Regions from separate parts of the Homo sapiens genome. Here region 2 is linked to region 1. Evidence: fine-mapped expression QTL. Tissue or cell type: unexposed skin. Region 1 holds a variant in brackets; the other region holds the start of a gene. All regions are shown on one strand. Distances are from middle to middle.

Evidence for each region. PIP is the estimated chance that this variant, and not a neighbour inherited with it, causes the effect.
Region 2: WDR87 starts here. The variant in region 1 is fine-mapped to the expression of WDR87 in unexposed skin (GTEx, PIP above 0.99). The same link has a PIP of 0.9 or more in sun-exposed skin.

What each region holds. Positions count from the first base shown.
Region 1 is chr19:37,833,774-37,836,534 of GRCh38, forward strand. It overlaps the pseudogene WDR87BP. Among named protein-coding and RNA genes, the nearest start is that of ZNF573, 56 kb to the left of the region's middle. The variant C/G (reference allele first, on the strand shown) is at 1,123.
Region 2 is chr19:37,904,960-37,907,720 of GRCh38, forward strand. It overlaps WDR87 (WD repeat domain 87), which reads right to left and starts at 1,635. Exons shown (of 6, transcript NM_001291088.2): 1 at 1,540-1,635. SIPA1L3 (signal induced proliferation associated 1 like 3) reads left to right here and starts at 2,249. Exons shown (of 22, transcript NM_015073.3): 1 at 2,249-2,399. RefSeq lists a silencer at 2,361-2,600.

The DNA.
Region 1 (2,761 bases):
AAGACAGGAGGATCGCTTGAGCCCAGGAGGTCAGGCCACAGTGAGCCATGACTGTAGCACTGCACGCCAGCATGGGTGACACAGCGAGACCCTGTCTCAATAAGTTTAATAAATAAATAAATATTTACTGAGAGATGAGTGGTCATTTGTTGTTTTTGAGCTAACCAACGTTTACCCTACTACTGGAAAGCAGCACTGGAGGGGTCATCCCTCCCTCACCCTCAGTTTGCAACAGAATACATCTGTATCAATTGGTCTCTTCTACACTTTCTCAACCAAGTTTCCATAAAAAAAAGTAAGCCCTCATGTCCTAAAGTATCCAATCTACATAATGAATTGATTTCTTTCCTAGTCATCTAGAATGCTACTAGTTATGAGGCATTGAGAGAAATGAGAAAGTAGCCCCTCAAATCATGTTCTGTGTTCCATGATTCAGATGAAGAGCCACAGTTGAGAAAGGCTGACAGGTTCTATGAAAGATTCTGAGGGTACAGTGCTGAGCAAAACAGACATGGCTCTGGCTCTTAAGAAGATGAGTCAGAGGGGAAACAGACGTTAAACAAATAACTAACAACTGAGTATACAAAACAAGTAAATGCTTACAAAGAAAGGAATACACGGTGGCTCACCCCTGTAATCCCAGCACTTTGGGAGGCCGAGGCGGGAGGATCACAAGGTCAGGAGAACGAGACCATCCTGGCTAACACGGTGAAACCCCGTCTCTACTAAAAATACAAAAAATTAGCTGGGTGTGGTGGTGGGCGCCTGTAGTCCCAGCTACTCGGGAGGCTGAGGCAGGAGAATGGCGTGAACCCCAGGAGGCAGAGCCTGCAGTGAGCTGAGATCGCACCACTGCACTCCAGCCTGGGCGAGAGCGAGACTCCATCTCAAAAAAAAAAAAAAAAAAAAAAAAAAAAAAAAGAAAGGAATACAATTCTGTATGACAGAGGAACCCAACCATGGCAAATATGTATACCTGTCACAGTTGGAACAACTTTTTTAAGTTCCAGCCTACACCAAAAGGACCACTCTTATTAGAATTGCACACACGATACACTGCCTTTGGGAAACTCATACTTCACAGTATGTAATAGGATGACCACCATGTGTGGCAGACCTTGT[C/G]GCATGCACCTCTGTCACTATTCTTTCTTTATTTATTTATTTAGATGGAGTCTCGCTCTGTCGCCCAGGTTGGACTAAGGTGGCGCGATCTTGGCTTACTGCAACTTCTGCCTCCTGGGTTCAAGTGATTCTCCTGCCTCAGCCTCCCGAGTAGCTGGGATTACAGGCGCCCGCCACCATGCCCGGATAATTTTTGAATTTTTAGTAGAGACAGGGTTTTGCCATGTTTGTCAGGCTGGTCTCGAACTCCTGACCTCAAGTGATCTGCCCACCTCAGCCTCCCAGAGTGCTGGGATTACAGGCGTGAGCCACTGTGCTCTGCATTCTGTCACTATTCTTATGTGTACCCAAGGGGAATGTGTGCTATTTACAACATGGAGTTAGCTGTGTGTCAGCTCTTCTGGCCATGTGGGGTGTGTGTATATATATGTACCTATCAAGGGAGTTACATACCTTGTAATAGGTTACACAGTAGAACATATACAATACATGCCACCTTCCAGTGATGTAGCAGATGTCTGTAATGTATGTACATGAAGTCCTCATGCTGATCAGCCAAAACTGAGTTCATGAAGTTTACTTCTGGGGTCACCCTTCTCAGTAGCTACTTGAACTATACCCACCTCCTGAACAATGCCCCATGGATCTAACTCTCCAAGTTTCTCTGCATCAGAATTTGTGCTCTGACCAACTAAGTTGGAAGGTATAATACTAAATCAACTGAAGTATTAAAACAACTTTACTTATAATGTCCATCATACCTGCTTCCTGCATCCACAAAGGATTTGAGACTATACTGAGGCCAATATCTATCTACAACTTAGAATCTCTCTTCTTTCTGTATTTCTTTTTTCTTTCTCTCTCTCTTTTTTTTCTTTAGAGACAGAGTCTTGCTCTGTTGCTGTTGACGTGACTAGAGTGCCATGGTGTGATCATAGCTCACTGTAACATCAAAATGCTGGGCTCAAGCAATCTTTCCACCTTAGCCTCTTGAGTAGCTGGGACTATAGTCATGCACCACCACACTTGGATAATTTTTTTTATTTTTGTAGAGATGGGGTCTCGCTATGCTGCCCAGGCTACTCTTGAACTCCTGGGCTCAAGTGATCCTCCTGTCTTGGCCTCCCAAAGTCCTGGGATTACAGGCGTGAGCCACCATGCCCAGCCCTACCTGTATTTCTTATTTTCAGATCTCAAGAGCTTACAGCACCATTGTCATTGCTGATTCAGTAGCAGTAGCAGAGTTGAGTGAAAGGACCCTGGTGTCTGAGCTCCCAACCCCTCATCTCTCTTAATCAGAAAGCTCATTTACATACCTCTTATTCCATTAGTTAATCATCATTCCTTTTCTCCTTTCCAGCCTTTATGTACAAACAATTCATTCACTCATTAAATGAGATCAACGCTTTGCTATGGAAAAAAACTAAGAATATCTTAACGCAATGTATCTGCCTGATATTACTGCTACCTACTCTACATCAAATCCTTCTCCTTCCTCTTCCCCCTCCTTCCATCCGAATGAAATTCTGATTTGGCTTAGGGCGATCATGGACCCAGAAACTTCAGCAACATAGAGTACTACTATAGTACTCCAAGGCTGGCATGGCCCTGTGGCTCTCTGAGCTTCCCTCTTCTATCT
Region 2 (2,761 bases), 71 kb after region 1:
GGCATGGTGGCTCACGCCTGTAATCCCAGCATTTTGGGAGGCCGAGGCTGGCAGATCACGTCAGGAGATCGAGACCATCCTGGCTAACATGGTGAAACCCAGTCTCTACTAAAAATACAAAAATTAGCTGGGTGTGATGGCGCCTGCCTGTAATCCCAGCTACTTGGGAGGCTGAGGCAGGAGAGTCACTTGAACCAGGGAGTCAGAGGTTGCAGGGAGCCGAGGTGGCGCCACTGCACTCCAGCCTGGCGACAGAGTGGGACTCCGTCTCCAAAAAAAAAAAAAAAAAAAGTAGAACTGAAGCAATGAAAACATTTTTCCATTAACCTAACTTGGAATAATATTTTGGATATATTTGGGTTAAATAAAATATTAAAATTAATTTCATAGCTGGGTGAGATGGCTCACGCCTATAATCCCAGCACTTTGCGAGGCTGAGGTAGGAACATGTCTTGAGGCCAGGAGTTCAATACCAGCCTGGGCAACATAGCAAGAAAAAAAAAAGTAAATAATAATGATAAATAAAATGAATTTTACCTGTTTATGTCAAAATTAAAATTGCATATGTGGCTTGCATTACACATAAAAACACACACATATATAATTTTTTTTTTTTTTAAAGAGACAGGGTTCTGCTTTGTCGCCCAAGCTGGAGGGCAGTGGTGCAATCATGGTTCACTGCAGTCTCAAACTCCTGGGCTTAAGCGATACTCAGCCTCTTAAATAGCTGGGACTATGGCCACATGCCACCACGCCTAGCTAGTTTTTTAGTTTTAGTAGAGATAGGGTCTTGCTATGTTACCCGGCCAGTCTCCAACTCCTGGCCTTAAGTGATCCTCCTGCCTCGGTGGCTCAAAGTGCAGGGTATATTTCTCTTAGCTAGTATTGCTCTACATTGTTGTAGTCTGGTGGTGGCCTGATATCCCTACTGGACTGAAAACTCCCTGAAGGTAGGAGTCCAGTCTGTCTGGATTTCTCTTGTGTCTCCATAATCACCCAACCTGACATGGAATAGGTGGTTAATCCATTTTTGTTGAATGAGTGGAAAAATGTGCTCTCCCAGGAAGAAACATATGCTTCCCAGCTTCAAGTGTTAGTGAACATCTTCCTAGAAGGCAGGCTGAGGCGGAAAGGGTATTGACTCCGGCTTCTCCACCAGAGGACCTTGCAATTCCAGTCAATTCCCTCGGTAACTCTTATGGAGGAGTGGCAATATACCTTAAAAAAGGAGTGTGTGTTGCGGGGTATTCCGCTGCTTGGTTATGTCACCAGGTGGATTAAATTTGGACAAAATTTCCCAAGGTGTAGGTACTCTACAAACACTAGTTACCCTCAGGAATGTGCGATCAACAAAAGAATGCAAGATAACAAGGCCCCTAGGCAGCCCCTGGGTCTTGTGGCTCCCGTCGAAGGCAGAGCTCTGGAGCCGCCTACGCCGGGGACAGGCGACTACACCTGGGGCCCCTCACCCTCGGGCCTCCTGCACGTGGCAGGGAAGGCAGGGCGTCTCTATCTCAAAGCATTGGCTGCGCCTGTTACCTGCGACAGGATTCCCGACAAGGGACGGGTACGGCGTGTGCACTCAGGAGCTCCTAGAGCTAGGGGCAGCAACTAAGAAGCTACCTGGCGGATGTTGCGAGAGGACTCCGCCCACAGAACGGTTGGCCCCCAACCCCGCAGCCGGCGGACTTCCCGAGGCCAGGGGTCTGAACGCGCGTGCGCATGGGCGCGCGCCCGGCGCGAGAACGCGCGCGCGCTCTCGAAAGAAAAAAAAAAAAAATCCTCTCCGCGGGGTCCCGCGGCAATTTAGGCCGGGGTCTGCCGACGACCGCGCGTGCGCGGGCGTGCATCTACGCCCTCCTCCACCGCCCCCTCCGCTGGGGGTCTAGCGCACTGCTCCGCTTCCCCCGTTTCCCCCGGGCTAGCGTCCTAGGGGTAAGTGACTCGAGCCTGGCAGAGAGTGAGGGAGAGGTTCCGCCGAATGAAGGGAGGAGGTAGACGGGGCCAGGAGAAAGGAGAAACCGCCCCGGCGGGGCGAAGAGCGCGGCTCTCGAGCTGTAGTCTGCAGGAGACACACCTCCCTCCCTCACGCCCCTCGGGGCTGCGGAAGTGCTCTACAGACTGGAGCTGCACGAAGGCGACCAGCGGACTACCGTTCCTAGGAGGCAGCGCGGCGGTGCGCCTACGGCTCCCGGCAGCCCCCGCGCGCCATTCTCTTTTTGAGTTCGCGGCCGGCTAGGGCGAAACTACAGTTCCCAGGAGGACTCGCGCGAAGCGGCTTGGAAGTGGGCAGCCTGGAAGTCACTCGGGCCACCGGAGCTGGCGGCGTCTCCAGCGAGCGGCGCGGAGCTGGACGCCGCGATCGTGGGGCCCGCGAGGCGGGCAGCCGGGGCGTCCAGGTACGTGGCTCCGGGTGCAGGATCGGCCTCGCGCAAGGGTGGCGGGGAATCGGTGGCTGCCCGGACCCCGAGGGTCAGCGCGGGCGGACGGCCGGGTGTGGGTACTGGCCGTGGGGGGCGGCGGCGCCGGGACTCGCGCCCTCCGGACCCAGCCGGACTCGTGCCCGCATGGCTCAACTTTCCAGGCGTGCACCCCGGCGCTGTGGTGAAGAGCTTGGAGGCGGGGAGCGGTGGATTCGCGTCCCGGCTGTGCCACTCGGGAGCCGCGATCTGGGAAAACCGCGCCGAACCTCAATTTCCCCTGCAGTAAAACGGAGTAGGAGAGCATCTTGGCGGAGACTCTGTTGAGATAATATAATAAA